Homo sapiens: one gene and its partners. The protein of the gene in region 7 purifies or fractionates together with the protein of the main gene of each other region. This does not show direct contact. Each region holds a gene or a part of one and is shown on either strand. Other genes may lie near its edges.

Evidence for each region.
Region 1: the proteins of TMEFF1 (region 7) and PRDM10 purify together in Homo sapiens (affinity purification with mass spectrometry, with the first as the bait; 3 studies listed by BioGRID). This does not show direct contact.
Region 2: the proteins of TMEFF1 (region 7) and METTL9 purify together in Homo sapiens (affinity purification with mass spectrometry, with the first as the bait; one large-scale study listed by BioGRID). This does not show direct contact.
Region 3: the proteins of TMEFF1 (region 7) and SLC39A11 purify together in Homo sapiens (affinity purification with mass spectrometry, with the first as the bait; 2 studies listed by BioGRID). This does not show direct contact.
Region 4: the proteins of TMEFF1 (region 7) and ZDHHC5 purify together in Homo sapiens (affinity purification with mass spectrometry, with the first as the bait; 3 studies listed by BioGRID). This does not show direct contact.
Region 5: the proteins of TMEFF1 (region 7) and THNSL1 purify together in Homo sapiens (affinity purification with mass spectrometry, with the first as the bait; 3 studies listed by BioGRID). This does not show direct contact.
Region 6: the proteins of TMEFF1 (region 7) and DHRS2 purify together in Homo sapiens (affinity purification with mass spectrometry, with the first as the bait; 3 studies listed by BioGRID). This does not show direct contact.

What each region holds. Positions count from the first base shown.
Region 1 is NC_000011.10:130,000,036-130,004,335, forward strand, and holds the start of PRDM10 (PR domain zinc finger protein 10), read right to left. Parts: upstream 2,801-4,300; 5' UTR 2,687-2,800; exon of another isoform or gene 2,589-2,686; intron 1-2,588.
Region 2 is NC_000016.10:21,606,077-21,609,576, reverse strand, and holds part of METTL9 (protein-L-histidine N-pros-methyltransferase isoform 1 precursor), read right to left. Parts: intron 1-3,500. UniProt on the Homo sapiens protein: Protein-histidine N-methyltransferase that specifically catalyzes 1-methylhistidine (pros-methylhistidine) methylation of target proteins.
Region 3 is NC_000017.11:73,082,689-73,086,188, forward strand, and holds part of SLC39A11 (zinc transporter ZIP11), read right to left. Parts: intron 2,159-3,500; coding exon 2,120-2,158; intron 1-2,119. UniProt on the Homo sapiens protein: Zinc importer that regulates cytosolic zinc concentrations either via zinc influx from the extracellular compartment or efflux from intracellular organelles such as Golgi apparatus. May transport copper ions as well.
Region 4 is NC_000011.10:57,692,114-57,695,613, reverse strand, and holds part of ZDHHC5 (palmitoyltransferase ZDHHC5), read right to left. Parts: intron 3,004-3,500; coding exon 2,912-3,003; intron 1,832-2,911; coding exon 1,699-1,831; intron 1-1,698. UniProt on the Homo sapiens protein: Palmitoyltransferase that catalyzes the addition of palmitate onto various protein substrates such as CTNND2, CD36, GSDMD, NLRP3, NOD1, NOD2, STAT3 and S1PR1 thus plays a role in various biological processes including cell adhesion, inflammation, fatty acid uptake, bacterial sensing or cardiac functions.
Region 5 is NC_000010.11:25,023,112-25,026,611, reverse strand, and holds part of THNSL1 (threonine synthase-like 1), read right to left. Parts: intron 3,437-3,500; 5' UTR 3,389-3,436; coding exon 1,157-3,388; 3' UTR 1-1,156.
Region 6 is NC_000014.9:23,642,752-23,646,139, reverse strand, and holds the end of DHRS2 (dehydrogenase/reductase SDR family member 2, mitochondrial), read right to left. Parts: intron 2,989-3,388; coding exon 2,921-2,988; intron 2,030-2,920; coding exon 1,978-2,029; intron 1,732-1,977; coding exon 1,597-1,731; coding exon of another isoform or gene 1,586-1,596; intron 1,314-1,585; coding exon 1,258-1,313; intron 999-1,257; coding exon 887-998; coding exon of another isoform or gene 838-886; 3' UTR 501-837; downstream 1-500. UniProt on the Homo sapiens protein: NADPH-dependent oxidoreductase which catalyzes the reduction of dicarbonyl compounds. Displays reductase activity in vitro with 3,4-hexanedione, 2,3-heptanedione and 1-phenyl-1,2-propanedione as substrates.
Region 7 is NC_000009.12:100,476,149-100,479,648, reverse strand, and holds part of TMEFF1 (tomoregulin-1 precursor), read right to left. Parts: intron 1-3,500.

The DNA of each region.
Region 1 (4,300 bases), on a different chromosome or scaffold from region 7:
TTCTAAATTTTTTTTTTTTTTTTTTGAGACGGAGTTTCGCTCTTGTTGCCCAGGCTGGAGTGCAATGGCCCGATCTCAGCTCACTGTAAACTCTGCCTCCCGGGTTCAAGTGATTCTCCTGCCTCAGCCTCCCGAGTAGTTGGGATTACAGGCGCCTGCCATCATGTCCGTCCAATTTTTGTATTTTTAGTAGAGACAGGCTTTCACCATGTTGGCCAGGCTAGTCTCGAACTCCTGACCTCAGGTGATCTGCCCGCCTCGCCTCCCAAAGTGCTGGGATTACAGGCATGAGCCACAGCGCCCGGCTTAAATTTTATGTTTTCTCCAATGATCACGCATTATTCTTAAAACTAGAAGGAAAAACAAAACAGGCAAGCAGAAACTTAGGTAGTGCCAATCAATTTGGGATTATATTGAGTTGTGCTATCCTTTATACCTCCATAACCTCTAAGTAAAAACCATTCAGAGCCCTTGAAGACAGGAACCTTGCTTTTTCTAAAATATATACTCAATTACATTGACATACAATATATGATTAATATGTGGTGGAGCATGCTACAAAATATTAGAAAAACTAAAAATGAATTCTTTGAAAAAGCAAAACAATTTTGCCTTGCAAAACGAGGAACAGCATAGCAGAGTGGGAGCTTACGGGGTAGAAGGCACAAGACATTTGTCTTGATCCAAAACAAACAAAAATGTAATCCTTTCACTAAACGTCCCTGTTCACTTTAAAATGGTTCATTCTGTGTCAACTTCACCTCAATTTATTGTAAAAGTAAACCTAAAGGCCGAGCGCGGGGGCCCATGCCTGCAATCCCAGCACTTAGGGATGCTGCGGCGGTAGGATTGCTTGAGCTCAGCAGTTCGTAACCATCCTGGGCAAAATGATGAAACCCCGTTTCTACAAAAAGTAGAAAAATTAGCCAGGCGTGGTGGTGCACGCCTGTAGTCCCAGCTACTAGGGAGGCTGAAGCAGGAGGATCCCTTGAGCCCGGGAGGTCGAGTCGGCAGTGAGCCAAGATCGCGCCACTGCACTCTAGCCTGGGCAACCAGAGACCCTGTCTCCTAAATAAACCTAGCAAAGTTCCTTTCTAAATACCCCATATTGAATAAACACTGTTTAAACGCTGCTTTGCCCCCAACCAATCCTAATTTTAAAAAAAAATCTTGTTTTCTCTATTCTAGAACAACAAATAAGTACTGCTCATCAAAGTGGAAGCTATTGTGATGCTGGAATGGTAGGAAGATACAAAAAAAATACAATGTAATAATACACCTTCTTGCCTTACAGCGATGGAGGAGTGATAGAAACAAAGAGAACAGGTCAGAAAAAGAGGCCACAAAACAGTCATGAGTGATTCTGCTGTTTTTAATAAAGGTTAAGTACTGCTAAGTTTAGAGAATTTGGGGTGACGAGACAGGCAAGGTTTCAACAGGCAAAGCAGCAGAATTAGGGCACAGGGCAGAGCTGGGTGGGTCTCATCACACATCTAATCCTCGATGACAGCACAAAGCCACCTCTCCTTGTGCTTAAGTGTACACGCACATTGATTGAAAATGCACTAAAATCCAACTCATCCACCAAGCAAGGCTAAAGGCGCGCACACAAATTCAACAGCGCTGCGTTCGCGTGGCTGGAGGGCAGACGGGGAATATTCCATTTTACTTAGTAGAGTATCAACACCTAGCTGCAGGGTTAAACCTGCTTAACAAAAGCTGGCGAGGGGCTGGAGAGGTGCACACCATCAGCCCTCTCCCGAGCGCCGACCGGCCTCGCCCTGCCTCTGCGCTGCACCCTGGGTGCAGGCGGACTGGGGCAGGGCCGCGACCCCGGCCTCGGCCTCCGCCTCCGCCCGGCCAGCCCCGACGCGGTGCCACGGGACAGACCCGCAGGGGCCACCCCACACCCCTGCGGGCCGGCCCCCCGCCCCGGTCCCGGACGCTAGCTTGGGAAGGCAGGCCGGGGGCCCAGCCATCGATGGCAAGTGGGCGGCGCGGCCTCCGCAGACAAAGCTGGGCGCCCCATCGAACAGGACCCTCCGCCCCACGCGCCCGCAACCGGCCAGCCCCGGAGCCCTGCCCGCACTGCCACCCCCAGCCCGGCGCCCGGCCCCCAGCCCCCGGTGCTCGGCTCCCGGCCGGCGGAGACCTGCCCGCCGCGCCCGGAGCGCCCGCGCAACCGCCGCCGCCGGAGCGCGCAGGCCGCCCAACCGCCGTCCCGGCCCAACCAACGCGGGCAGGGGAGGAGAGGTGCGCGCGGCCGGCGGAGCGTGCGAGCCACTCGGGGGTCGCAGGGGGAGGCTGCGCGCGGCGAAGGCAGGGGCGACGAGACGCCGAGGCCGGCGCTGAACGCGGCGCCAGGAGGGCCTGCTGGAGGGGGCCTTGCCCTCTTCCCCTTGGAAGGTGCAGATGGTTTGACCCCCCACCCCGAGTGAGGTGCCTCGTCCCAGCCCCGGCTGGACTGTACCATCGGGCGGTGCCGCCGGGATTTCTCCCCCCCACCACCACCATCAATTCCCCCCCCACCCGGGTCCGCGGTCGGTTGGCCCCGGCCGGGCTCTGAGACGCGGAAAGAGCTGGGCGCCATTTTGGGTGGGACTAAGCAAAGACGAAACACCCTCCCAGTCTATGGGGTAGTCTGGACCCTGGCTTATCTGGTTCCCTTAATCCTTTAGGTACTTACACGACGTTGGGTGAGGGGAGCTGGAAGATCAGCGGGTCCCCGATCCTCTCTCCCTAGGGGTGATAGAAATCAACCCCCCCCGCCACCTCCAGGTGGTTCTTCCCGCCGCAGAGTGGGAGCAGCATAAAAGGCGGGGTCTTATTAGCATAATCTGCCTGGCAACCTGATCTCGACGTTATATGATTGGTTAAACTCTGTAAGCCCCATGCCGTGCCTAGAGACGAGAAACGCTGGGGCGAACTGACAGGCCCAGATTTAGGAGTCATGACGAAGATCCTGAGACGCTTATTCAGTCTGCAGAGAAGCCAAAAGGAGATTCACATAATGGCCCAATGACTGAAGGCCTCTTTATTTCGTGCTCTGCTGTTCGTGTAAAACCCAATCGCAGAGCGGGTCTCAGGCGGCGCTCGCCTGCGTTTCTACTCTCAGCCAATCAGAAAACCCGACTCTTCGCATTGGGGTCAAGCCCCCGCTGCGGCCCGCGTGCTAACGGGGAGGAAGCTTCCAGCTGTGCCTGGGTGTCTCGGGCGCCGAGGGCAGCCTGCGCCCGTGCTAAGCCCGCCTCCCGCGCGCCCGAGGGCCCGGTGTCCCGGAAGACGCGCGGGGGTGAGGCGGCCCTCGCGTCCGCCCGCCCCGCCACAGATTGCCTCCGAAGTGGCCTGGCCGTGGAGCGCCGGCGAAAACCGAACTCCCGCCCGGCTCCCGGAGTCGGGAGCCTGCCGGGGTCTCGCCCTCAGGACCCCCAGGGAGCGGCCGGGCGCCGCCTATCACCCTGACCCACCGCACCTTGAGAGCGCTTTCACTGCGCCTCTTTTTTCTCCTCTACCAATCTGGAAAGGAAGTGAGTGTCATTTCAGACATTGAGAAACATTATTCAACACTGGTTACCCAGTGACTCAGCTCACTCCTTAACCGCAGGCTTCCACATCCTGCTGTCCCTTAAAATTGCCTTCACAAAGGGCAGCCAAGAGCCCAGCTTTGGAGAGATACCCAGCTCCAACTACCCACTGGCAGGCAATACGCAGGGCAGCTAGATGGCAGAGAGACCTTGGACCTTCGGACCTTCGGGGAGCGGTTTTCCCTTCGGTGATATCTACCTTGCTATGTTCGTGATATCTACCTTGCTACGTTATTTTGAAGATTAAGTGAGCTCTTACTTTACCGAGTAAAGTGCTTTGCTTAGCACACTGTCTGGAACTTAAATGAGAAGTACTGACAATATAACTTACAAAAATCCTAAACTATTGCCTGAGAAAAAGAGGGAGACAGGACAGCTAAGCAAAAGACGAGAATAGAAAACACCCACAGCGTGAAAAACTGTAAAATTAACTCAATAGTATTCTCTTTACTGTTTTTTGTTTTGTTTTGTTGTTTTGTTTTTTGATACGGAGTCTCGCTCTGTTGCCCAGGCTGGAGTGCAGTGGTGAGATCTGGGCTCATTGCAACCTCTGCCTCCCGGGTTCAAGCGATTCTCCTGCCTCAGCCTCTCTAGTAGCTGAGATTACAGGCATGCACCACCACGCCCGGCTAATTTTTGTATTTTCAGTAGAGATGGGGTTTCCCCATGTTGGCCAGGCTGGTCTCAAACTCTAACGTCAAGTGATTCTCCCGCCT
Region 2 (3,500 bases), on a different chromosome or scaffold from region 7:
ACCTGGTTCGTTCAACTTCAGCCTAAATATTTCCTAGGTATATTTTCTTTTCAAAGGAAAATATACCTACGAAAGGCTAGGCTAGGCCCCCTGTTCTAATACCCTTTCATACATCCCATTTGTCCCTTTGGTAATATTTACAATCTCTGAATTGAATAATTGTAGACAATCGCATGTTCAGTGCCTATCTTCCCAGGTAGACTGAGAGCTTCATAAAGGCAGAGAAAATGAATGGCTTCAGTGCCTGGCACAGATACAGACAAACAATAAATGTTCATCAACAGGCAGCCTAAACAGAATTTGGAGTTTCTAACAAAATCCTAGAGGAAACATAAGGATAACCACAGAGATCGCTGCCATGGGGTTTCTGTCAATTTCTCAAACTCTGCAAGGCCTTGCTTAAACCTAATTTTGCAACCAGTGGTTACAGCTACCCACTCACCACAAAATTGCATTACCACAAGCAAGGAAGCAAGCAATGAAGGAAGACACCAACTGAGCACCTATCATGCACCAGGCACCAAGCCATGTGCTTTACATTTCATTTACCACCTTGCAATTTCTGAATAAATGGGAAGCATAGGGTCCCTAAGCAGCTCCAGCTGATTCAAGCTCCTGCTCCAGGTACGTGTTGTTTTATAAGCGTTTCTTTCAAAGAAGCTTCTCTTCACTTAACTCTACCCAGTGTGTCTGCTAAAGAAAAGAAAGCAGGACTATCCTGCCAATTAAACTGAACTACATGTGTGTAGAGAAAAGATAATCTGGTCTAGATAGTAACTAAAGTCCTGTAAGCCAGGGTTTCTCAGCCTTCACACTACTGACATTTGGAGCTAAATGATCCTTTGTTATAGGGGCTGACCTGCACATTGTAGGATGTTCAGCAGCATTCCTAGTGCCTATCCATCAGGTTACAGTGGCACTACCCCAAATGACAGCCCAAAATGTCCCAGGCATTGCCAAATGTCCCCTGGGAGGCAAAACTGCCACTGCTTGAGAACCCATACATGGCCTTACCCACAAAATGTCACTGTACTGACTCTCCAGTAGTGTTTCCCACTATCCCAGCCTAACTATGGTCTAGGGACTCCAGCTGACTGAATTAAAAGATGGACTCGCTGGCCTCAGAGAACTTACATTCCAGAGTGAAAATAAAATCAGAAACCAAGGGAAACAAGTAATGTGACTATGATCTTGGCGAGGAGCTTCAGAGCCTTAAAGGAGCAGTCACCTTGCCCTTAAGGTGAAATACCAAGGACCAAGGAGAGAAAAAATCTGCAGGAACCCCTTTAACCCAATGGGCAGGACTCCTGGTTTCACCTCTCTCCAAACAACCAGCTTAGATAAAAAGCTACGCTAAGCTCGCAGCACTGGGTGGCTTGTCTGTATGCTCCTGTGTACTTTCAAGCAGGTGAGTTCTTTGTTTTTTTTGAGACGGAGTCTTGCTCTGTCGCCCAGGATGGAGTGCAGTGGTGTGATCTAGGCTCTCTGCAACCTCTGCCTGCCGGGTTCAAGTGATTCTCTCGCCTGAGCCTCCCAAGCAGCTGGGATTACAGGCACCTACCACCCCGCCTGGCTAATTTTTGTATTTTTAGTAGAGATGGGGTTTCACCATGTTGGCCAGGCTGGTCTTGATCTCCTGACCTCAGGTGATCTGCCTGCCTCGGCCTCGCAAAGTGCTAGGATTACAGGCGTGAGCCGCTGCGCCCAGCCGCAGGTGAGTTCTTTAAATGTGTGCTCCTTAAAGACTACAGAGACAAAGGTGCACAGGCAAGAACAAAGTACTATGCCCGTTAAATTCACACACTGACAGGACTACACGCCCACTCTACTGTGAGGCTGGACTCCTTGGCTGGAGCCTACCATGTCTGAAAAAGCATCTTATTAGCATCTGCCTTTAAAGCTCACTCAAATGTTGTTTCATCTAAATAAACAAGGGAATCTTTTAAATGACAAATTCTAATCAAATGAGAATGATTCCATTCAGTCATCTGCTGATGCCAAGTACAGAACAGGATGTGATATCTAAAAATTACAGTAAATAGCAATATTCTCCCTACTGGCAACACAACTGCAAAGATACTAATAATTGGCCAGGCAGTAAACAGCCAAATCAGGTGGCTGCCACGCGTTTTGAATGCATGTCTGACAGTATTCGCCAACCGAAGTTATTAAATATTAGGTCATACTGTCTTAAAAATTTCCTGGCTGGCTACGATGGCTCACACCTGTAATCCCAGCAATTTGGAGGCCCAGGTGGGCAGATCACTTGAAGTCAAGAGTTCAAGACCAGCCTGGCCAACATGGTGAAACCCCGTCTCTACTAAAAATACAAAAATTAGCCAGGCGTGGTGGCAGGAACCTATAATTCCAGCTACTTGGGAGGCTAAGGCAAAAGAATCACTTGAACCAGAGAGGCAGAGGTTGTAGTGAGCCCAGAGTGTGCCACTGCACTCCAGCCTGGGCGACAAAGCAAGACTGTCAAAAAAAAAAAAAAAATTTCTCATTAAGCCCATGAACTCCTCCTAATATTTATATATAACCTTGGTTGATGAATCACTCGTTCAAAGTAGGAATGCAATTTTCCTATAAAATTAGATTTGCTAATCAGACCAAATATGGTTAAAAGTTTTTCTGAAATTATTTTTGGAGTTTATCAACTAATCAAACATGTGATATACAACATATCCAAAATACAACATTCCCAAAATACAAAGGATTTAAGCACACTAGCAGAGTCAGAAAGTAATTTTAAAAACTGACTGATTTTAGATGATGTGGTATAATAAAAAATACATATTTGATCTTTGTCCCAGGTTCCTGATAGAGAGTTCCTAAAACCCTTCGGGAATCTCAGGGTAATAAGAGTATCTTTTGTATGCTAACAGGATGACTCCTGATAGGGGTGGGAGACCCAGACAGCTTCAGGATGGGGACCAGGATGTGGGTATAAGGTTCAAACTTTCAGCCCCACCTTCCAATCTCCAAGGATGAGAAAGGAGTTGAAGACTGAGTCTAATCATGCCTATGTAATGACACCCCTAAACTATGGGGTCCTGGGAGCTTTTAGTTTGCTGAATACATTGATATGATGGTTGGGTGGCTCATCAGAGGAAAGAGAAACTCTACACCACCTCCCACACCTCACCCTATGCACCTCTTCCACTTGGCCGTTCCCCAATTGTATCCTTTGTAATAAACCAGTAAACCTAAGTGGTTTATTATTATTATTATTATTATTTTGAGACGGAGTCTCGCTCTGTCGCTCAGGCTGGAGTGCAGTGGCGCAATCTCAGCTCACTGCAACCTCCGCCTCCACGGTTCAAGCGATTCTCCTGCCTCAGCCTCCCCAGTAGCTGGGATTACAGGCACGTGCCACCACGCCCAGCTAATTTTTTTGTATTTTTAGTAGAGACCAGGTTTCACCCTGTTAGCCGGGATGGTCTTGATCTCCTGACCTCGTGATCCACCCACCTCAGCCTCCCATAGTGCCGGGATTACAG
Region 3 (3,500 bases), on a different chromosome or scaffold from region 7:
CAAAGGACAGGATCACATCAGAACTGCTAAAGGAATTGTGGGCCGGGCATGGTGGCTCACACCTGTAATCCCAGCACTTTGGAAGGCCGAGTTGGGTAGACCACCTGAGGTCAGGAGTTCGAGACCAGCCTGGCCAACACGGCAAAACCCCATCTCTACTAAAACCACAAAAAAAAAATTAGCCAGGCGTGGTGGTGCACACCTGTAATCCCAGTTACTCGGGAGCCTGCAGCAGGGGAATTGTTTGAACTCGGGAGGCGGAGGTTGCAGTGAGCCAAGATCCAGCCACTGCACTCCAGCCTGGACAACAGAGGGAGACTCCATTTCAAAAAAAAAAAAAAAAAAAATGGACTTATGCCCAGTGATTAGAGACAAGGCCCTTCACTTTCTCCGTGCCAGCACCAACATTCCAAGGGGCCCTCCATGTCTGCCTGAAGACCATGCCACCCAGAGACAAGGTTATAAGGCAAGAGCATCTTTCTTGTGTAAGGTGGGAAAGGGAAGCTGTGCCAAGGAAGGAAAGAAAGTAGGGCTGGCTTCCCCGGCATTCTCAGGCACAGCAGTTATAGGGAAGAGAACGTATGGAAGCTGAGGACCTAGAAACTAATTTTCTCAACACTCTCTGTGCACCTGTGTATGGCTCAGAAAGGACAGTGTTTTTGACGGAACAGTGGCTCCAGTCTAACAGCTACTGACTCAGATGGCCTCTGGCAGGCTCCACCTCCAGGCTAGTTTTTCCAGATCGCAGGGCTATAAAAACTGAAGAAAGAAACCAAACCCTGATCAACTAAAAGGGAAACCCACATATTACACGCCTTTTGATATGGGTAATACATCTGCAATACACAGCACCATGACATCTTCATGCCTGAAAAATGGAATCTGAACTAATCAAGACTCCAGGTCTAACTCTCAGCTTACAGGAAATACAGGGGACTGAGGAACAAGTTAGGCAGCACCACGAGGAAGTAATCAGCCAACATTCTAGAGACAAATGACCCAGTTTCTCCAACAAATTACTAGCATGAAAAAAAAAATGAACTGTTAAAAAATTAAAGAGACTTAAAAGATATAACAAGCAAATGCAATATAGAAACCTTGTTTGGACCCCAATTATAACAAAACAATATTAGATGACACCTTTAGAAAGATGAAGAAAATCTGAATATGGACTGGATGTTAGATCATAAAAAGGAATTATTAATTTGGTAGGTATAATGGCCATGTGATTATGTTTATTTTTAAAAAGTCATTCAGTTAGACATGTGTGTTGAATTTACAGGTGGAATTACATGTCATCTGGGATTAGCTTTTATAAAATATTCTAACCTCCCAAGAAGTTTTGGGGAGGACAGGTGAACTGAGATTAGCAAAATGTCAATAATGATTGAAGTTGGGAGATGGGTGTCTGGGATGCATTACAGGCTTCTATCCACAATTTTTACATGTTTAACAATGTCTATAATATGCTGGGTTCCATAACTCACGCCTGTAATCCCAGCACTTTTGGAGGCCTAGGCAGGTGGATCACTTGAGCCCAGGAGTTCAAGACCAGCCTGGGCAACATGGTGAAACCCCATCTCTGCAAAAACTCAAAAATCAGCCAGGCACGTTGGCACATGCCTGTAGTCCCAGCTACTTGGGAGGCTGAGTTGGGAGGATCACCTGAGTCCAGAGAAGTTGAAGCTGCAGTGAACCATGACTGTGCCACTGTACTCTAGCCTGGGTGACAGGGTAAGGCTCTGTCTCAAAAAAAAAAAAAAAAAAAAAAAAAAGGCCTATAAAAAAGATCTTTTAAGGGAGAAGGGGAGGAAAAAGTATATTTAGTTAGAGCCAACTATGTATTAGGCTAGGCCTGTGCTAGGCCCTTACCAAATAAGATCTTATTTCCCTAGTCCTGAGGCAGCTGTCAAATAAACCTCGATTGCTGTCTAAAGAGAAATGGGCATTTGATAAGCTGGGAAATAAATATGGCAGGTGATAAGAGGGAGGTGTTAGTGCCTGAGGAACACAGAGATGCATCTAGGTCGCAAGGGGAGGGACTGAAGACAGCCCTTGGCAGACACATGTCAGAATCAGTATGCCTCAATTTCCATTTCTCCTACTACATGCTACTTACCCCTGCAGCAAAGCCAAGACTTCCATCTAAGATCCGCCTCTGAAAATCAAAACAAGATGTTTCAGTTTCCAAGAGACAATAAGATGATGTTTCCTGGGACAAGAAGAAACCATAAGGCCCAAAAGAGCCACGCAAATAAAGACTGGCCGACTCCTGAGCTCGTGAGCTACTCAGTTTATACCATGGGCCAAGAACCACGGGGAAAGTCTTTGGTTAACTTTCCACCCACCCCATAGCCAATCAGAAGCGTTCTTTCAAGTGGTGCTTGGCTTGTCTTGGCCCTTGTGTTGTCTCTTACTCAGCTTTCCCTGTGAATTACAACTGTAAACCTTTAGTAAGTAGCCTGTCTACAAGTTGGGAATTACTGAGCGTTGGTGAGGAGCAGAGGAGCAGGTGGAACAATCAAAACCCTCACACAGGCCGGGCACAGTGCTCACATGTGTAATCCCAGCACTGTGGGAGGCTGAGGCGGGCAGATCACCTGAGGTCAGGAGTTCAAGACCAGCCTAGCCAACATGATGAAACCCCATCTCTACTAAAAATACAAAAAAAAATAGGCTGGGTGCAAGGGTTCATGCCTATAATCCCAGCACTTTGCGAGGCCAAGGCAGGTGGATCACCTGAGGTCAGGAATCTGAGGTCAGCCTGGCTAACGTGGTGAAACTCCATCTCTACTAAAAATACAAAAATTAGTCAAGCACGGTAATGCATGCCTGTAATCGCAGCTACTTGGCTGAGACAGGAGAATCCCTTGAACTCGGGAGGCAGACATTGCAGTGAGCCAAGATCATGCCATTGCACTCTAGCCTAGGCAACAAGAGCAAAACTCCGCCTCAAAAAAAAAAAAAAAAAAAACCCTCACACAATGGCGGTGCAAACGGGTACCACCATTTTGGCAAACTATTTGGCAGCACCGATGAGAGGTGAACACTATGTGTGCCACTCCTGAGTAATCCCATGACAGGAATGCACTTGTATTCAACAAACCCATGAAGAAAAATGTTCGGCAGTGCTAAGAGCCCAAAACTAGAAACTACCCAAACTCTCACCAACAGTAGGATGGATATGTTAACTAGGATACACTCATACAACAGGTACCATAATGGCGATGGGAACGCACACACATACTACAGTTACATCTTACAAACAGACAGGGACATTAAAGAAACTGGAAAACAAGTAGGGTAAAATCAGCCAGATGCAGAACAGTACGTACTATATGATTACTCCATCTAAATAAAGCACAGAAACAGGGAAAATATCCGTGCTGTTAGAGATCACATGGGAGATGACCCTTGGAGTAAAGGTTGGGGATGGTGAGATTGGAAGGGAGACTGAAGGCTCCTGATTGGAAGGGGCTGTGAGGTGAGGAGCTGGTACT
Region 4 (3,500 bases), on a different chromosome or scaffold from region 7:
GTCTCGCCATGTTGCCCAAGCTGGTCTTGAACCCCTGGCCTCAAGCAATATCACCCCACCTTGGCCACCCTAAATGTTGGGATTATAGACATGAGCCACTGCCTATCATATATTTCTCAACTATACTGGAAGACAAGGCACAAGAATCAGTTTGGGTATAGCATTAGATGAAGAAAAGTTGGGTTTTTTTTTTTGAAATGGAGTCTTGCTCAGTCACCCAGGCTGGAGTGCAGTGGCGTGATCACGGCTCATTGCAACCTCTGGCTCGCAGGTTCAAGCGATTCTCATGCCTCAGCCTCCCAAGCAGCTAGGATTACAGGCATGTGCCACCACACCTGGCTAATTTTTTTTTGAGATGGAGTTTCGGTCTTGTTGCCCAGGCGGAGTGCAATGGCATGATCTCGGCTCACTGCAACCTCCGCCTCCCGGGTTCAAGCAATTCTCCTACCTCAGCCTCCCAAGTAGCTAGGACTACAGGCATGCGCCACCATGCCCAGCTAATTTTGTATTTTTAATAGAGACAGGGTGTCTCCATGTTGGTCAGGCTGGTCTCGAGCTCCCAACCTCAGGTGATCCACCCACCTCAGCCTCCCAAAGTGTTGGGATTACAGGCATAAGCCACTACGCCCAGCCAGAAAATTTTTCTATTTTTTATTTTAGTCTGTTTTAGAGATGGAGTCTCGCTATGTTGTCCAGGCTGGTCTTGAGCTCCTGAACTCAAGCGATCTTCCCACCTCAGCCTCGCTAAGTGCTGGGATTATAGGCATGAGTTACTGTACCTGGCAGAAGAAAGGGTTTAAAAAAGGTTTTAATTCTGTCACTTATTTGCCCATTTAAACCAACAACTACTTGTTTAGCTCCTACCATCTAGCTGTAAGCTGTTAAGTCCTATGAAGACATGGAAATGAATGAATTCATTTTCTATTGTTAATGAACTTAAAGTCTAATGTAGGGCCGGGTGCAGTGGCTCACACCTATAATCCTAGCATTTTGGGAGGCTGAGGGGGTTGGATCACTTCAGGTCAGGAGTTTGAGACCAGCCTAGCCAACATAGGAAAACCCTGCCTCTACTGAAAATAAAAAAATTAGCCAGGCGTGGTGGCGCATGCCTGTAGTCCCAGCTACCCAGGTGGCTGAGGCACGAGAATCGCTTGAACCTGGGAGGCAGAGGTTGCAGTGAGCTGAGATCATACCACTGGAGTCCAGCCTAGGTAACAGAGCAAGACTCCCTCTCAAAAAAAAAAATCTAATGTAGAAAACAAGATTTGTATTTAAGTAATTTTAACCCAAATTAGTAAGTGATAAACACTGTAAGAAATATGGGCCAGGCGTGGTGGCTCATGCTTGTAATCCTAGCACTTTGGGAGGCCGAGGTGGGCAGATCACCTGAGGTCAGAAGTTCGAGACCAGCCTGGCCAACATGGCAAAACCCCATCTCTACTAAAAATACAAAAATTAGCCAGGCAAGGTGACGGACACCTGTAATCCCAGCTACTCGGGAGGCTGAGGCAGGAGAATTGCTTGAACCTGGGAGGCAGAGTTTGCACTGAGCACCACTGCACTCCAGCCTGGGCAACAGAGCAAGACTCTGTCTCAAAAAAAAAAAAAAAAACACAAAGGAAACTAAAGCAAGCTTCCGTCTCTTTGCCTTGGGTGAGACTTCCATGTTATCTAGCTTGACTTCTCTAAATTCCTCACCTTTGTTCTCCTCAGCTCTCCCTGGATGCCATTATCCATGATCTTCACAGTTATCTGCCCATCTGAAACTTCTGGTCGAAGGAAGGGAGGTCTGATTACAATTGTCTTCTCTTTCTTTGGTCTCCCCAAATACCTAAGTGTCGAGAGAGAGAGAGAGAGAGACACAGCGAGAGAGCTTTCATTCATTTATATTTTAAAGTATCTACTGTTTCTGTAAACCATTTTTATTAGGTTGGTAAAAAAGTAATTGCAGTTTTGGCCATCACTTACTTAGCAATAAACAGAATTGATTCTGTGAAGGACTGCAGCAGGACTAGGCCTTTGTGAGCAGATACCTAGCTCAAGGAAAGCACTTTAGAGTGTATCTTATTCACCCTCAATTCTCAAAGATTTACCTTAATACCTGAAGAATATCAATGGAATTCACAGTGTCCACTAAAGCAGGGGTCCCCAACCCCTGGGCCGCAGACCAGTACCGGTTCATGGCCTGTTAGGAACTGGGCCACATAGCAGGAGGTAAGCAGTGGGCCAGTGAGCATTATCACCTGAGCTCCATCTCCTGTCAGATCAGCGGAGGCATTAGATTCTCTTAGGAGCGCAAACCCTAGAACCCTGTTGTAAACTACACATGCAAGCAATCTAGGTTGTATGTGTGCTCTGAGCTCACTGCAACCTCTGCCTCCTGGGTTCAGGCAATTATCCTGCCTCAGCCTCCCAAGTAGCTGGGATTACAGGTGCCTGCCACCTTGCCCAGCTAATTTTTGTATTTTGAGTAGAGAAGGGGTTTCACCATATTGGCCAGGCTGGACTTGAACTTCTGACCTCAAGTGATTCGCCCACCTCGGCCTCCCAAAGTGCTGGGTGTGAGCCGCCACACCCAGCCATGAGAATCTAATGCCTCATGATCTGAGGTGGAACAGTTTCATCCTGAAACCACCCCACCCCAGCCCCCATCTGTGGAAAAAGTGTCTCCCATGAAACCGGTCCCTGCTGCCAAAAAGGTTAGGGACCACTGCACTAAAGGATGGGCATGTAGGTACTTACCATTCTAAGATAGACTACTTACCATTCTAAGATAGAGTGGGTACTTAACATTCTAAGATAGAGAACCCTTCCTAAAGGCTCTCACCAGACCCCTCCTTTACCAGAACAAGCCCAAAGAAGATAAAAGTTCTGACCAATGGTAAACACTAGACCAGAGGGATAGGTGTACCTGGGTGCTGGAGAACTGCAGAGAACACGGCTGACATTGTTACAGCAGCCATTGGTGAAGGGGTTCACACCTCCCCGGAATTTACCCGTAACCTAGAGGGAGAAAAAAAATACCAGGTTAGAAGATGAGACCTTGACTTCCAAAGGCCAAAATACAAATCTATTACAAGTTATTGTGCACTCACTATCTGAGGGCTATGCAAATGAGTAAAACACAAGAAATTTATATATGTTATGGTTAAGAGCAGGGAATCTACAGTCAGGGTCCTTAGTTCAAATCCTAGGTCTACCTCATGGTTGCTGACCCAAAACCTCAGTTTCCTCATGTAAAATGGGATAGCTTTCTAAATATTGAAAACTAAGATAAAGAATAAGCAATTAAGGGCTGGGCATGGCAGCTCACACCTGTAATCCCAGCACTTTGGGAGGCTGAGGCAGGTGGATCACCTGAGGTCCGGAATTTGAGACCAAACTGGCCAACATGGCAAAACCCCATCTCTACTATAAAAATATATAAAAACTAGCCGGGCATGGTGTCAGGCACCTGCAATCCCAGCTACTTGGGTAGCTGAGGCAGGAGAATTGCTTGA
Region 5 (3,500 bases), on a different chromosome or scaffold from region 7:
ATAAATCATGGTTAAAATGTATTACTACAAAGGAATACAAATTAAATATGTGTATCAGTTGTGTGCAGTTTCAGCTGCCAGAAAAAGACAATGTTCACTGAAGAAATAAACAACAAATTACGTAAGAATTGACTCCAAATAATATAGGGAAACTGCTGTCTACAAATACACTCCTATTGAGACTACTCAAGTACTCTTAATTTTGGAAAACCTTCCTCTTGAAATAGATCATTTCTGTATTCACTTCTAAGTAGTTCTGCTTACTGTTTCATCCTGGATTTCAGTTATGTGTTGATTTTCAAACATCGTCACCCTAACCGTACACATCCAAAGGAGAGTGAAGGACAGAGTACATCTTTAATTTGGACAGTGTGAGATACACATTAGTTGTAGTCCAAAATGGAATTTGAGGAGGGTTAAAAACACTGGCCCTAGCCAGGTGCAGAGGCTCACGCCTGTAATCCTAGCACTTTGGGAGGCCGAGGTGGATGGATCACCTGAGGTCAGAGGTTCAAGATCAGCCTGGAAAACATGGCGAAACCTCATCTCTATTAAAAATAAAAAAATTAGCCATGTGTGGTGTTGCATGCCTGTAATCCCAGCTACCTGGGAGGCTGAGGCAGGAGAATCACTTGAACCTGGGAGGCGGAGGTTGCAGTGAGCTGAAACTGCACCAAAAAACAAACAAAAAACACTGGCCCAAATCCTAATAGAAGAGTTTACTACTTCCTCCATTCAAGTTAGCCATTTTGAGTGGTAAATTAACTTTCTAATCAACAGAGTATTCACTAGTTACAGATGTAGTACCTGAAAACTGGGCTTAAATATTTTAATCGCCAAATAGTATACCAGACATTTTGGTCCACATAACAGTGAGGGTGTGGGAGTGGAAATTGATACACCCCTCATGAGCAGAAGGCAAAAGTATGATAGCTCAAAGGTCCGTGCACTGTGTTACCTTTTGTCACTTCCAGATTAAAGATCTGAGGAGGTGACATGGAGTTCTCATGTCAGCCCTAGAGATCAGACTTTTGAAATTCCAAACAGATATAGAGATATTTACATAAAAGACAAAATGCTACTGTACTCCAAATCAGTGTTTGAGATTTATTATTGCATGCTTATAGCTAGAAAAAAAAATTTACTCTGAAAGCTTTCATATGAATTGATTTTGGACAAGTTGTTCCACATGACTCTTCAAGACATTCATATCAGCTGCACAGACCTGGTACTCCATCTTCTCTTGCTGTTTTGTTCTCTCTAATAAAGCCTCATGCAGTGGAGGTAATGCATTGTATGAACCCAGCAAATAGAGCTGACTTGATGAAGTCTCATTGATTTCTTTAATCTTTAAAGCCTGCATGATAGCAGGTGCAAACTTTGAGTAATGGGCTGTAGATGAGATAATCACAGGGCAAGTTTTGTCTTGCACCCTATCTGCAACCACTTTTGCAACAGCAGTGTGTGGATCCAAAATATACCCTGAAGTATTATAGGTGGAGTTAATAGCTGCTAGGCACTCTCCCTCAGAGCACCAGTCAGCTACAAAATCCTGCTGAAGTTTCTCAACTAGAGCCTTTTCTATCTGGAAATGATGCTGACTTTCTAATCGATTAAATAATTCTGTCATTAGCTGTCCATCTTTATTAGCCATCAAGTGTAAATGTCGTTCTAGGTTTGAAGATTTGAGAATATCTATTGACGGTGAAAAGGTTTGTGCTAGTTTTCTTTCCCTTAGATCATAATGTCCTGTTTTTATAAAATCAGTCAAAACATGGTTCTGATTAGAGGCACAGATAAATTTTCGAATCGGGATTCCCATCATTTTGGCATACACTGCTGCTAAAATGTTACCAAAGTTTCCTGTGGGAATACAGACATCGACTGGGCTTCCAAAAGAAATAAATCCTTGACTAACAAGATCAAGATATGCGGAAGCATGATAAACTACCTGCGGAAGTAGTCGGCCCCAGTTTATGGAGTTAGCCGAACTTAAGATTGTTCCATATTCCACAGTAAGAAAGCCAGTAAAATCAGAATCATTAAAAATTCTTTTTATAGCTGTCTGGCAAAAATCAAAATCTGACTCAACACCCACTGCCCATCCATTTTCTCTCTGACTGCCAATTATTTGTGCTTTTTGAAAATCACTTACTCCATTCTCAGGAAAAAATGCAACCACAGCTATCCTTTGCTTATCATTCTTATTTAGACGACTAAAACCATTTAAGACTGCACTCCCTGTGTCTCCTGAAGTAGCTACAAGTATCATATAATTGCAACTTGGTGGGATACAGTGTGCAAAAATATGAGGCATAAGCTGTAAAGACAAATCTTTAAATGATCCTGTTGGTCCATGAAACAACTCCAGGATGAACTGGTTGCCTGAAAGGTGCCTGACAGGAGCAATTTTTGAGCAGGCAAAGTTTTCCCCATAAGCAGTTTCAATCATTTCTCCCAACCTGGCAGCAGGTATGTCTGCAGGATGGATACATCTTTCCAACAGTATCTGTGCTCTTTCTACGTAGGTTGCTCCTACTAGGCTTTTCCACTCCCCGCAGCTTAATTTTGGAAACTCCTTTGCAGGAACAAAGAGGCCACCATCAGAAGCCAACCCCTCAATTACAGCTTCACTAAAGAATTTTGCTGAAACCTTCTGTTCACAGTCTTCAGGCCAAACGTGTCTTGTTGAAATGAATGTTTCCGAGTCCACATCTTGGTATCTTTTAATTGCATTCAGCACTTTGTCAGCTACCTCCTCTGGGGAAGCCCCACTTTCACAGAAAACACGAGCATCATACCACTTCTTATAATACTGTCTTCTAAATTTAAGTAAGTCTTTCATAGATGTTCCAGAATTCTGACCTACAATCCTATCTGTCTTCATTAATTTTAGACGACAAATTAGATCTAGTAGAGGTACATCCAGGTATACAATTATTCCATTTTTCTTCAGATGCCACATGCTAGCATCATGCATTGGATTGGACCCAGTAAGGGAAATCACACTTCCAGATGCAGAGAAGTTTAACACAGCTTTTCCTTCCTCTTCTAAAAATTGCTCATTACCAACATCCTGTAATTTTTCAGACACACTCATATTCCAGGTTTTTTCAAGGATATCATCATCCACATCTATGACACAACAACCTAGTTTCTGACCTATTATTCTGCCTACTGTTGTTTTCCCAGCACCAGGAGGTCCCATCAGGATAATATTTTTGTCTCCAACAAGAGAGTGGGTTGAATACCATGACTTCCTCAATTCCGCAAGTGCAAAGGTTCTTGAAAGAAATCGCTGTGCATGTTTATCCGTTTTAACATGTATACTAGAAAAACATTTCTGTGTTATCTTTTTCAGATGATGACATCGGTTAAAGTGGAGCATTCTCTTTTCACTTTTCTGCCCAAGCCAACCTAAAAATTGGCTTTAGCCCTTTTCAAAACACAAAACAAACAAAAAACAACAAAAGATAATTTGGTTACTAATTACAGTAGAT
Region 6 (3,388 bases), on a different chromosome or scaffold from region 7:
AGAGTGGTGCTCAGGGCCACGGATGGCTCGAGGACCACTGTTCCCCCTCCACTGTGCTGAGCCTCAGTATGCATACACAGAGGGCGGTGCCCCCGAATATGACTCAGGACAATACACAGGGCCTTTTCTGAGAAAGCCATGTGTTCACCCCAAGAGGAACTTCAGCTCTGACTACTCTCCTCTAACTGGAATTATGCACAAGATTCGGTATAACTGTTTTCTCTGGGTTCTCAAAGGCCTGTGTGGCCCAGAAAACATTAAGAAGTATTAGCCTGGAGGACCCCTGGGAGAACCCCAGAATCTTTCCACTGTCACCCACCACCACCTTGCTGAGCCCCCAGCAGGCCCAGTTCAGATAATGGAGCACACACAAAGCCTTCTGCAAGGCAGCACACTCACTCCCGCCTCTGTGTGTCTGCGACGAGCTCAGGGCAGCTGGCGGTAGAGGCCTCTTCCCACCATGCTGCCCTGGGCTCTACCCTTGACAGATGCTTCCAGACTTGAGGATAAATTTGAGTTTATTTTAGGAAAAAAAATGCTTAAAGCACAAATTACAGAGAGGAGGAGCTGAAATCCTTCAAAGGCCTGAGCTTCTACTCCTTTCCCTTAAGATTCCTCCAAAGCACCAGCTCCATAAAATCCTTCAGCTCCCCAGACCCACACCAAGAACCCCACATGTTAATTGGATCAGCCAAATCTACAAGCAGATAAGTCCTAAGGAGAATGCCGAAGCGTTTTTCTTCTTCCTCAAGCCTAGCATGAGTAAGCCCCCAAATTGCTAGTCTGGCAGAATGGCAGACTCTGCCTCCAGATCCAAATGATCACCTAGACACCCCCTCAGGCTCCTGGGCCTGGGACCACAGCTACGCAGCCGCCCCCACTCCTCTCAGAGCCGAGTGGAGTAGCCTGCCACCGCAATGTTCTCCCCGTTGACGTAGCTGGCATCTGGAGAGCACAGGAAGGACACGATTCCTGCACAGTCCTCTGACTCCCCAATCCTGGATGGAAGAAGGACACAGTGTCAAGCATCTTGTACTCTGATTCTGCTGCTCTGGGGCTCACGGATGACAGGTGGGAGTGGGCTCCATGGGGAACAAGGTGGATGCAGCAGGGCTACTTGCACCCTCCAGGGCCATGTGGACTCCAGATTTCAGCAAAAACAATGGCCAGATGACAGGGAGGGGTCTGCTCTTGCAATAGACTCAACTGCCCCTGCCTAGCCACACATGGACCACCAAATCTCCAAACCCCACTTGCCTCTGCAGCTGATGATGTTCCTTGAAGTTCTTCCAGAGAGACTCATTCCCATGAAACTGGGCAAAGGGAAGAAATGAAGGAGTCAGTGCTACTAAAACAAGATGGGCAGGGCCCCGGGAAGGCCACCAGGCAGAACACCTAGGGCAGCTTTGCCCTTCTCAAAAGAAGGAGCATCTTTTCAGGATGGATGGACTGCACCATGGCTGAGTTCAGAGAACAATGAGGACCTCAGTCATAGGCATGCTGACCTAAGGATTCAGTCACCCCTTGATCCCTTATTCACTGGGAAGGGTTCCCACTGAGCCAGACTGGGAGATGGAAGACACACCCAATCCTCACCACTTTGCTGAAGTCAGTTTTGATAATTCCTGGAACCACGCAGTTTACCCGGATGTCCTTGGGGGCCAGCTCCAATGCCAGTGTTCTAGTGAGACCCAGCAGCGCTGTCTTGCTGACATTGTAGACACCCAGCGCCTGGGAAGGGAATTGACAGAGTGATTAGGATATGGGAGAGTGGGGGAAAGCATCAGTTGGATTTCTCACCTACAGGGATCTCACAGGCCCAGCAGCCCTCCCACCCACATGGAGACAAGCTCAGCCCAGGGCAGCAGGAGGATGGTGGGGGTCTGTCCCAGGCACTTTGTCTGTAAGGCTCTGAGGAAAAGAACAAAGTTGCCCCTCACCCTATACCACTCAGGAGCACAAGGACCAAGCACTTACCACTACTGGATTATAAGCTGCAATGGAAGAGACCAGGATGACAGCACCCCTCCTGAGACAAGACAAACATAAGAGAAGCTGAAGCTAAGAGCTTACCACTGATGGTGACACTATCATGAGTTCATTAAATGATGCAACCCTCACAGAAGCAACACAGGTCCTATTACTGTCCCCATCTCAGAGTTCAGAAAACTGAGGCTCAGAAAGGTTTAGTACCAGCCAATACACGGCAGAGCTAGGATTCCATGCCTATTTCTCATAAATACGATGTCCATGCTCAGAACCCTTATCTTCTGCTTCCTCTCTTGCCAGGTGCTTGAAGGAGAGGGCAGGGTGGGCTTTGTGAAGAGGCACCCAAGGCTGATGGTGAGTGCCTATCAATGAGCAACCTCTAAGGAGCAGATGGGGTAAGGGAGACCAGAAGTGACAGTCAGGAACTTTCCTTCTACTGAAGACAGCCCCTGGCCAGTTCCTAAGGGTGTGTCTGTGAGGGGTACAGTCAGATCTGCAGGACCTGGAACACAGGCAGGGTCCCTGGAGACCAAGCGCAGGCATGAGGAGAGGTCTGGGACAGGCTTTTTCCTATGGAGAGGAATGGGGCTAACCCTGTCATTGGTTTTAAGTTGGTAAGAACAGAGAGCAGGTAAGGTGACAATGACCAGCCCACAAGGTCAAGGAGTTAAAGCATAGCCTTGTCCCAAACCTGCTGATGTCAAGGCCAAGGAGGCTATGCCTGGGCCCCTGGAATACTACTCTCATCCTGCAGCCACTGGAATTGGGAATGGCAGCCACACAGATGGGGAGGCAGGACAAGAAGATGAGGGATGTGGAGATCCCAGACCTCTTCTGTCCTCTACCCACTACTGGCTGTGCTACCGACTGTATTTCTGTGCCCACCTCAGGTCCCCAACTCCGACTGGTCCCCACCCCCGCCCTGCCATACCTGTTCTCCATGTAGGGCAGCAACTGGCTCAGCAGCAGGGCTGGGGACTTCACGTTCACACTTAGGATCTGAAATCAGAGCAGAGCATGGGTGAGGGCAGAGAGACATGGTCAGCCCAAGTCCTGCTCTCATAAGACACTTGGAGCCCTGTAATTTGTGCAGTAGACCCAATGTATGTGCATATAAGAGAAACCAATCCCCCTTCTGACTGGTGCAAGAGGTATTTCCAATTTGCTAATGGTTTCATAGGCAGGCAGGCTAAGTCACAGGCCTGTGAGCAGAGCCCTGAAAATGTGAATTGTTCAGGACTGACACGAGGAAGGAAATGTTCAGGCCTTTTAAAGAAAATGGGGACTGGGGGCAGTGGGTCATGCCTGTAATCTCAGCACTTTAGGAGGCCAAGGTGGGAGGATTACTCAAGGCCAAAAGTTCAAGACCAGCCTGAGCAACATAGTGAGACCTTGTCTC
Region 7 (3,500 bases):
GGAAAGAAGCCAGACACAAAAGAACACACCTCATATGATCCCATTTGCATGCATATCTAGAATAGGCAAATCCATAGAGAGTAGATTAGTAGTAACCAGGGACTGGGGAGGCGAGGAATGTGGAATGACTGTTAATAGCTATGAGGTTTCTTTTGGGGGTGATGAAAATTTTCTGGAATTAGAGAGTGGTGACAGTCGTACAATTTTGTGAATATATATAAATCCACTTAACTGTACCCCTTTTAAAAAATCCTATCTTGTTCGTGCTCAATAAATGCTTATTGATGGGGACTGCTGTAGGGAAGCAAGCCCAGATGTGGTAAACAGAAACTTCCACTATATATATCTGTAAGAGGCTAACCACCTCTATAAGATTATAAGGCCCTTGAAAGCAGGGAAGCCTTCTCATATATTTCCCTTAACATCCAGTATATTAGATTACACTACGCAGTATTCAATCAAGGTTTGCTAAATTAATTATTATCCATCCACATTTTACACAACAGGGATCTAGAAGATAAAAGCCCTGCCCGAGATTCCCCATTAATTAGAAAAACTCACTTTTATTCCCAAGAATCCTGAATTGCCACAAATAAGGCACTTCTCATAATCTGACATTTATATCGTCCATTAATACCATTCCTACCACCATATAATAATCCAGAGGACCCACTTCTAGTTAAAACCCATTTCAAATTCTCTACCTTATATCTATCACGAAATGCCACTTACTGGTCTCTCAGTATGTTCTTCTACCTCTTTAACCATATTCCCTAAGCTAGAAATGCCCCACATGGTTAGTCTCATTTGTTCTTCTCAAATATCCCAGAGCCAAAAAGGACCATCATCATCTTCATTTCACAAATGAAAAACAAAGTCAGTCAGTCTAAGGTTACCTGGTCTCCTAAATTCAAGTTTATCTTTCTTCACATATGTCATGTATTTCCAAGCTTTTTTTCTCTTTGGATAACTGGGAACTTTCTGTTAAGTTAGCTTTAAAAAAAAATAAGCATAAATAAAAAAGATATAAAATCGAAGTTTTTCTTTTAATCTCAATAAGTCTAAAGTCCAGAATAAGTGGAGAACTGGGGCAAGAGGACAACAAAAGAAGTCTTGTTCCAGCCTGGGCATCATGGCGAAGCCCTGTCTCTACTAAAAACACAAAAAATTAGCCGAGTGTGGTGGCACGCACCTGTAGTCTGAACTACTGAGGAGGCTGAGAATCACCTGAGCCCAAGAAGCTGAGGCTGCAGTAAGCTGAGATTGCGTCACTACACGCCAGCCTGGGCGACAGGAATGAGATCCTGTCTCAAACAAACAAACAAACAAACAAAAAAGTCTTGTTGAGAACAAGAAGAGATAAACCAAAGGCCCATTGCTTAGGGAAGATGCAATATCAAGAGACAACAGGGCCAATTCCCTATGCTTCATCTTCATCAAGAAGCATGATCTTCAAGCTAGGGAGGTCAGAAATCTGATAAAAGGAAACCAGCTTCTAAGGTAAGTGGCATGGGTAGGGGACAGTAACAGAATACAGAGCTAGTTCAAAAGAATATGCTTTCTGATCCAAATAACTCACACTCCATGATGCTGAAAAAACTTTTACATCTGCCTTAAAAACTACCACAAATTATCTAAGCTACCTTGACAAGGTGCCAGAAGACCAGAAATCAAATAAATAGAAATAAACACATGCTCAAATTTCAAAAAAGGAGAAATGCAGGCCGGGCGCAGTGGCTCATGCCTGTAATCCTAGCACTTTGGAAGGCCGAGGTAGGCGGATTGCCTGAGCTCAGGAGTTCGAGACCAGAATGGGCAACACAGTGAAACCCCATATCTACTAAAATACAAACAATTAGCCGGGCGTGGTGGTGTGCGCCTGTAGTCCCAGCTACTCGGGAGGCTTGAGGCAGGAGAACTGGTTGAACCTGGAAGGCAGAGGTTACAGTGAGCCGAGATCATGCCACTGCACTCCAGCCTGGGCGACAGAGCAAGACTCCATCTCAAAAAAAAAAAAAAAAAAAAAAAGGCGGAATGCAGATCCAGAAAAACATCTGTGGGTAAACCTGCTATGTAACTGCTGAAAAATTCTAAAATGGATAAATAAGTTTTCGAATACAGTAAAATGAGAAAGCCACCATCAGCTCTTTATTAAGGCAGGCTATACAACATGTGCTTTTTATTTAACAGGATTACTAAAATGGAAAAAGGGAGGATGACAGGATGATATATACACATAACAATCTAACAAGACAATCTGAAAGAATCTTTTAAATAATAGGCTGGTGAACAAAATGGGAAAATGTTGAACAGCAGAAGCTCGAAAATCTGTTAAATTCAACTAACAGGATGCATAGCTAGTTGAACATCTGGTTGACTAACGTAACAACATCAACCAAGTTGGTAGAAAGTCTCCAGTAATATGTCGCAGGGTTCCATCCTTTTTCACAATCTAGACAACTTCTATTAATTTAATGAAGCCATAGAACTGCTCTTCATATTTGCAAGTGAAAAAAACCTGTGAGTGACCCAACACGCACAGCCTGACCGAATCAGCTCCAGAAAGCTCACAGTAGGCTGAAATGATGGTCCAAAACCAAAAATGAATATCTACAGGGAATCGAGGGCTGTATTTAGTTTTAAAACTGAAATAGGCCGGGCGCGGTGGCTCACGCCTGTAATCCCAGCACTTTGGGAGGCCGAGGCTGGCAGATCACGAGGTCAGGAGATCGAGACCATCCTGGCTAACACGATGAAACCCCATCTCTACTAAAAATACAAAAAATTAGCCGGGCATGGTGGCGGGTGCCTGTAGTCCCAGCTACTGGGGAGGCTGAGGCAGGAGAATGGCGCGAACCCGGGAGGCGGAGCTTGCTGTGAGCAGAGATCACCCCACTGCACTCCAGCCTGGGTGACAGAGTGAGACTCCGTCTCAAAAAAAAAAAAAAACGAAATAGGCCAGGCACATTGGCTCACACCTGTAATCTCAACACTTTGGGAGGCCGAGGCAGGCGGATCACCTGAGGTCAGGAGTTCAAGATCAGCCTGGCCAACATTGTGAAACCCCATCCCTACTAAAAATACAAATTAGCCCGGCATGGTGGTGGGCGCCTGTAGTCCCAGCTACTCCGGAGGCTGAGGCAGGAGAATCACCTGAACCCAGGAGCCAGAGGTTGCAGTCAGCCAGGATTGCGCCACTGCACTCTAGCCTGGGTGACAAAGTGAGACTCCATCTCAAAAAAAAAAACATGACAGAGTAAACTTCAGTTTGTGGGGGGATACCTAGATAATAAAAGCTACTAAACAAACTGTGCACAATTTCGAGCTGCATTAACAGATGTGTGTGTCCAGACTGTATTAACATGGTTCTCAAACTTACCAACTAAAAAAATTTTTTTTCCATATGAATCGTTCCCAAATCTTCATCCTAAAAAGTTACAATAAGAATCTACAAGTATCACTTAGTTAAAACTCTAGCTTTAGACCCAGTTATTCAAGTA